Homo sapiens: one gene and its partner. The protein of the gene in region 1 interacts with the protein of each later gene in a pairwise test. Each region holds a gene or a part of one and is shown on either strand. Other genes may lie near its edges.

Region 1 (3,500 bases):
CTTGCATTAAGTTTTCAAGTCTTTCTCCTCAACCCAATTGTATGTCAAAGAAGGAAAGACACTATGTAATTATACTTTCGATCTCCCTCTTGTGACCTACTACAATCCTTTGACTTTAAACGTGCTCAGAATATGTTTGTTAACTGATTATTTAGCAAAACACAAAAGATGAATTCATTCCTCTATGACCTGATTGTTAACATGGCAAAGTAATGTTTTAAGGGAAAAGACCTCAGCACTTAGTAAACTTTAATCAACTACAGAGGAATAGGCATAATACTATTCTTCCTAAATTAATTGCTCCCAATAAAATATTTACTTTTAAAATCTCAGTCCTCAAAACTATATCACTCTGAGAAAGTCATTTCCCGTAGGCAATTTTCAGCAAATGTGGTCCCCCAGAAAGCATTATGCAGAATTCTACTTGAGTATATTTTTTCTAAAGTCTTTCCTATTGAAGGAAAAAATATATATTTTTCTATTGTTAGGCACTTCTCAAATTATTTTTTGGAAAGGTCATGCAATGCTTCAGAGAGACTACTCCTGGATCAAAGATTTTCTTGTATCCTCCGTCGTTCACTTTTGCTATGCTTATCAAACCTCTTAAAAGTCTTTTGGAAGAGGTACCTAAGACCAAATGCCTTATCTGAATGCCACTAGGTAGACAATGCAGTTTTTCCTGAATGTTACAGCAATGAAGTTCAAATAATGGCTCAAAATACTTTGGAATAAATTTGTCTAGTTAAAATTAGCCCAATGACAGAATAATAAAGAAGGCAAAGAATATCCAATACTACTTAATCTTAGTTACTTAAAAATTAGCATTTTCTAAGCATTATCTTAATGACATAGCTAAATAGATTTTCACCATACTGTATAGCACAAGGCAAAAACTAGATAGGAAAAAAAGTCTAATAATAGAAAAAGGCATGTAATAAGTGTGACTTTCACATAATACTAACAAAGGCAAAATAAAATACTGTCAACATTATTCTCTAGTTTATAGAAACATGCTATATTTAAAGACATAAATAGTGTAATTTCTGTATTATTTTTATGGACACGGGCAATCTAAATAACTAATAAGTTGTAAATATTTATAAATAGAATATTTTTCTTGAAAACTGTCTTTATTTCATGGGAATTTTTCTCTGTATATTAAATAAAACATAATCTATCAATGTTCTGACATTTTCTGTTTAAACTATTTTAAACCATTTATTTGTAAAAAGCTTGTAAGGTCCTCAAACTAAAAAGACATGTAAGTATTCCAATAAAGCTTTCTATTCTATTTGAAATATAACTATCCTCCTACTCCAGATAACCATTAACCAAAAGCAACTGTTTATTGATTCCTGTATGTAAATCATTCTGTTTATAATAGTGACTGATTATTAAGGATTTTTAGTTCCAGGAAAAAGAATGCCCTGGTTATACTGATACCTTCCCTAAAATAGCAAGGTCTGAGAAGTATAAATGTCAGCCACATTGAGCACATGGCAAACTTGTTTTATCATGTATCTATCTGCCACCTTGTTTATCACTAAGGATAGGTTACACAGGCATTCTGAGCATGGACTTTAATAAGAGAGGAGAACTGCCTGGTTGACATTGAGACATTTCTCAGCAAATAACAAAATAGGCCTAACGTTGAAATTATGTTTACTTTAAAATTACCAATTTGGGACAAAGAATTTGGTGACCTTTAGATCACCATCCAGTGCTTTGAAAGAGCTTAGCACAGAAATGAAATGTTTTAAGAAATTAACATGTATCTTCTACTTAAGTTATAATCCCTGATAAAATACAATTTTAAATGTTTTTCACTTACTGATATTTTATATAATTCTTAAATAAGGAATTTTTGATTGATTAAAAGTTTTTTAAATTCTTGCTGTATTTTAAAAATAATTGTTAATACCCCCATTGCCTTTAATATCCACATCCAGTCAGCTGGTACATCCTATGCAGCCTAACCTTATCACATTTCTCTCAGCATACATGTCCTCCTTTTCATTCTAGGGCCACTCCCCTCATCTAGTCCCTCATCTCTGTTCTGTATAACCACAATCTCTACTTCATTCTATATGTGTCCTACCCCTATAAAATGTCACCAAAACACAACTCCTGTAAGGTTACTACCCTAAACACCAAGTGTCTGTTTATGTTCCACACTACGTATTATTAAACTTACTAGCTGGTCATCAATGACCTCAAAAGTGTAGCACCAATCTCCCTTGAACACCTGATTCCTCATTTCTTCCTATCCTATTAATGCTTCCCACCCCTCACCCCAGGCCTTTTCTCTCTATCCTCTTACTTTCTGCCCATTCTTCTGGAATCTCTTCAAATGATGTAGAAAGTACAAGTCTTTTAAAGTATTCCAAACGTTTATGTTCTCAAGCTCCTATCAGCATCCAAAATAAGTATTTTTAAAATCTGTTTTTATTCTTTTACACAGGAGCATGGATTCTAAAGCTGGGCTACCTTGGTTCAACTCCTTATTGTGCTACTTATTAATTAAGTACCTTTGCACAATTAATTGGACTTGTCTGTGCTTCAGTTCCCCTATCTGTAAAATCAGAATATTAACAGTACCTATACCATAGGGTTGTTCTGAGGAATAAATGAATTAATTATAAACCTTAGCTTAGCACACAGAAAGTATTCAAAGATGTTAGTAATCATAATTACAGCTATATTCTCATCGCTATTCTTTATATATAATCAGTGGAGGCAAGACAAGAAAAATTGGTTAAAAACATGAACATTGGAATAATAAAAATGACAAGCCTCATATCTCCGCAAATGAAAAAATTGTTCTAGTCATGATCTTTAAGGTAAAAGTCTTATTACTTTACGGCTACTTTACAGTAGAAAAGATTAAATGAGATACCTTACTTAAAAGAATACAGCCAGTGGCAACTTCTACTATTTTCATAAATATTTACACCTTTATAATGTCACAGATTTAGAAACTAGGGCATGAAAAGAGTAAATGGTTTTTCCCCAATCTATTGTTTCTTTCAAGAAATAAACAAAAAAACTTAGTTACTTCAAAATAAGTATATTAAAATAATAATAATATTGATATCACTTCTTACATTTACAAAGGAGTTCCACTTTTAGAAACCTCATGTATCCTCTAATGAGGTCCGTTTTTGTTTTTCTACCTGCCTGGTATAAACATTAGCCTTTTTTTTTTTTTTTTTTTTTTTTTTGAGACAAGAGTCTTGCTCTGTTGCCAGACTGGAGTGCAGTGGCATGATCTCAGCTCACTGCAACCTCCGCCTCCCGAGTTCAAGCAATCCCCCTGCCTCAGCTCCCAAGTAACTGGGATTACAGGCATGCGCCACCATGCCCAGCTAATTTTTTGTATTTTAGTAGAGACGGGGTTTCACCATGTTGGCCAAGACGGCCTCAATCTCCTGACCTCGTGATCTGCCTGCCTCGGCCTCCCAAAGTGCTGGGATTACAGGTGTGAGCCACTGCACACAGCC
Region 2 (4,600 bases), on another chromosome or scaffold:
CATGGTAAACCAGGATGAGCAATCAAGACATAAACAAATTAAAAGAGATGCCACTGGAGGTAAAACAAACAAAAAATGTGGCACAGCTGTGGGAAAATGATTATTTTCATACACTGTGGGAGTTTAGAATCGATACCATTTTTGAAGGAACATTTGATAAAACTGAGCTGTGTGTTCCCTTTGACAGAAGTTCCATTTCTAGTGCATTCTACAAAAAATATTGACTTGTACAGAGATGTTCACTGTAGCACTGATTATTTCCTATAAATAAGGATTTGGTGAAATAGAGTACTTTGGCTTATAAGATACTTTTTATAAAGTATTATAAAATACTTTTTGTAATTGTTAAAAAATATGGCAGGAAGAGATTCCCAAACATTATTAAAAAAAAAAAGTCAAAGAGCAGTATGAAAGCATACGCATAAACATGTACTTATACATATATCTGAAAGAACACACACCAAGCTATTAACCTTGAGGAGTGGAATTGGGGACATAAGAGGCATGGACTGTAGGAGGGCTTTATTATCTGCATTTTCAAATCATAAAGCTTAAGTTTATTACATGTATCATTTTTTTAACAATGGAATAGAAGTTAAACTTCCAGCTTAGCTTTCATGAGCTCTATTATCAACATCAGAATAATTATTTATATCATAAAAAACATTTCAGTATCAATGTTCCACATACCCTCTTATTGTATTGTTTGTCTCAGGATCACCAGGGTCCAATGTTTCTTTTAAGAAGTTTATATAATGTATCCAAAGGTCAACACTAAGAGGTATTGCCTGAAGCCCCCGCCGATAAACCTAAGAAGAAAACAGCAAACTGTACTTCAAATATTTAATTATTTCTTAACAGAGAGGCAACACTGTGTTATCCGGTGAACCTTAGAAATACTAATTACTGGAATTTTGTTTAAATAATCTACCATTACCATTTGGGTGGAGGTTGGATAGAACATGGCAATGTTCTGATCCCCACGTGCAGAGTCTTGATCTTCAAAGCGCAGCAGTCCCTGCATTCTGACCGGGTTGTGTGGGCAGGCTTTGGGTTACAGACCATAGGGCACAGACCCATTAGAGCATCAATGACAGCGTCTGACCAAAAATGCAATAAGACGTAGCAAATGTGACTAGCAAACCAACTATATTGTTTGGAAAATGAGAAATAAATGTAAGTGAGAGAAAAGCCCTGCCCTACTTGTTAAGCTGCAGTGTAATACAGAGGCTTGCACTGCAAAGCTTGACAAACTGTAGAGGTTTAACGCACCTGCCAACAAAGAGAGAAAATATTAGCTACAAATGCCACAAGAGTGACAAATGCAAATAAATACCCTATAAAAATTGTTTGACCATAAATGGTAGGTACTGCCAGCCAAAAAAAAAAAAAAAAAAAAATCTTTGTTTTGTTATTAATTGGCTTACAGTACCTATTGGAGATAAGTTTATTCAGTGATGTACGCACCTCATCTGATGGTTTAATGTTGTCGTGCCGCTTTTCAAGGTCTGCATACTTTTTCCAGTAACCATAGCAATACGGATAGTGTATGAAAAATCTGTCAAATGCCTTCCTGGCAGCCATCAAGTGATTCTGATAAAAATAAAACAGTATTTAAATATTGTGGAAATTTCTGTCAAAAAAATATTTATTATTCCTTTCAAACGTTATTATCTAAAAAAATAATAATAAATGGCAGGCTTAAAAACTCCACATGCAGGCTGCTCTGCCGATGGAGCAGCCCTTCTTTTATTCCTTTACTTTCTTAATAAACTTGCTTTCACTTAAAAAAAAAAAAAAAAAAAACCTACACAGGCAGCAGCCCCCTTTTTCTTCTAAACGCAATTGAAACAGAAGGAACTAATTTTGCCAACTTTTTATTTCAGCAATTTTACACACACATTTACACCTCAATTATTACAAAACATTAAGCTTTGACACTACTGACTCTCTACAACATACAAAAGCTGTAAGCTATTTTCAAAGCTAAAAATGTAGCTACCTAATGTTATTCAACTTCATTTGAAAATTATGAGTCAATTTTAATCATAAACAATAAGGTCTACTGTTTCATTATAAATTAATGACTTGATTAATTTGTCCCTTCTGATACCATTTTAATAGTTACTAACCTCCTGTTCTACATATTGAAGCAAATATACCCAGCCTGTAAAATCCTGAGGATTATTTTCTACAGTTTTCCAAAATTTTTCATATTCTGGAGGGAAATTTGCTTCTGTTTCTGTCAGCGTCACTGGAAGGTCCACAGCACTTGCCATTTCAGTTTCTTCTGTAGATGCATTCACATTGGGAGAGTCATCAGGTGACTGTTCCATTTCTGTAACGTTCATAATCTCAGTACTGAAATCAGTAGGATGTTCTACCACTACCTCTGAACTGTTGCCTGTGCTGCCATTACTAGAATTTCTGTATTCATCCATGTGAGAATTTTGCATATTGTCTTCAGTTAACGATCTGTGGAAACACGAAAAAAAGAGAAATATCTTCCAAATGCCAATAAAATTATTTGGCCTCAACAACACCTTTTAAAAAGCCCTAATTTAGCTATTAAAGAAATATTAATGTGAGTCTTAATCCCCTACAAGTCAGAATCAGAAGGTTCATTAGTTTTTATATTGTAAATAAAATTATAAATTCTTCACAAAACTGCCATTTTGTTGTTGGTATTTGAATGAAAACCAAATAACTGTGGATTTGTTACCTCATTCAAACAACAAATAAGTACACTGCCTGCTACCCAATGAAGAAATACTATTTAAAATTCAATGTTTCTTATTTAGGTAAGAATCTGATTCGGTGCCTGAATGTTACCTTGCTATCAATCACTGGAAAACGGCATATCTTTAACAACTGTTCTGGAGGCTAAAAGTAAAACTGACAAAAATTCTGGTCATGGGTATAAACATTTCAAAAGGAAGCTCATCACTTGGCTCAGGATAAAGTTTTAGAAAAGATAAAATCATATTGCTTAAATATATCTATATACTTACGATTTATAAATCCTGACAGCTAGGTTTCAACTTTATTATATAAGATATAAATTATGGCTTTAAAAAATTAAACAGTAATTTTTAAAGTGAATAAATGTTACTTAAAACACATTTAAGGGGCCAGGCATGGTGGCACACAGCTGCAGTCCCAGCTACTCAGGAGATGCTGTGGCAGGAGGATCACCTGAGCCCAGAAGTTCAAGGCTGCTGTAAGCATTGACCCTGCTACGATACTCCAGCCTGGGCAACAGAGCACGACCCTACCTCTAAAAAACATATTTGAGAAAGGCTTACAGTCTGGATAATAACTACATAATATACTTAAAATTATGTCATCTAATTTTTAAGGCTATAAGGTAATAAGCAATTACCCCTTTAAGGTAATACCACATTATATTTTCATAATTACCTTCATCTCTTCCACTAACAGCTTAAATGGAAACCAAATCATTAAATTATAGGGCATGTCTCATTTTTTTTAAAATGAGGAATTATTCTCAAAATTAAGCAGACCATAAAACTGATTTACTCTTAAAATATACTTAGAATATACTACTACTTAATATATTAATAGTAGTTAATTAAAAAGATGACTAAAACTTTAAAGACAATAATGCAAAGGAAGAAATGCAAATGACCAATAAACATAAAAAAGACCTATATCTTTACTAATAAAGACATAAATCAAAATAATGAGTGTACCAAATAGCAACTGTACATATTTTATACTATGGAAATAATCAGAAAAAACATGTATTTGTTTAAGGGCATTCATTACCAGCACTGTTGTACAGCAAAACTGGAGGGTGTATTAAGAAAAAGACTGCTTTGGCCGGGCGTGGTGGCTCATGCCTGTAATCCCAGCACTTTGGGAGGCTGAGGCAGGCGGATCACCTGAGGTTGGGAGTTCGAGACCAGCCTCACCAACAAGGAGAAACCCTGTCTCTACTAAAAATACCAAATTAGCCGGGCGTGGTGGCACATGCCTGTAATCCCAGCTACTCAGGAGGCTGAGGCAGGAGACTCTCTTGAACCTGGGAGGAGGAGGGTACAGTGAGCCGAGATCATGCCATTGCACTCCAGCCTGGGCAACAAGAGTGAAACTCCGTCTCAAAAAAAAAAAAAGAAAAGAAAAAGACTGCTTTAATAAATAGTATACTCGGCCAGGCACGGTGGCTCATGCCCGTAATCCCAGCACTTTGGGAGGCCGAGGAGGGTAGACCACCTGAGGTCAGGAGTTCAAGACCAGCCTGTCCAACATGGTGAAACCCCATCTCTACTAAAAATACAAAAAATTAGCAGGGTGTGGTGGCACACGTCTGTAGTTCCAGCTACTCGGGAGGCTGAGGCAGGAGTATCACTTGAACCCGGGAGGTGAAGGTTGCAGTGAGCCAAGATCGTGCCACTGCACTCCAGCCTGGGCAATACAGTGAGATTCCGTCTCAAAAAAAAAAAAATAAATCATATATAATGGAATAATAAGAATTAAAAAGGAAATATGTACATCTGTATTGATACAGAAAAATATCCATTATAGATTTTTTAAATACATATATATGCATACACACATGCACTCACAGATTTGTAAG

What was found. Proteins that work in one complex are often made in the same cells at the same time.
Region 2: the proteins of MBNL1 (region 1) and PRPF39 interact in a two-hybrid assay, tested with the Homo sapiens proteins (one large-scale study listed by BioGRID).

Annotation. Positions count from the first base shown.
Region 1 is NC_000003.12:152,275,429-152,278,928, reverse strand, and holds part of MBNL1 (muscleblind-like protein 1), read right to left. Parts: intron 1-3,500. UniProt on the Homo sapiens protein: Mediates pre-mRNA alternative splicing regulation. Acts either as activator or repressor of splicing on specific pre-mRNA targets. Inhibits cardiac troponin-T (TNNT2) pre-mRNA exon inclusion but induces insulin receptor (IR) pre-mRNA exon inclusion in muscle.
Region 2 is NC_000014.9:45,093,096-45,097,695, reverse strand, and holds part of PRPF39 (pre-mRNA-processing factor 39), read right to left. Parts: intron 2,476-4,600; 5' UTR 2,457-2,475; coding exon 2,133-2,456; intron 1,594-2,132; coding exon 1,468-1,593; intron 810-1,467; coding exon 691-809; intron 1-690. UniProt on the Homo sapiens protein: Involved in pre-mRNA splicing.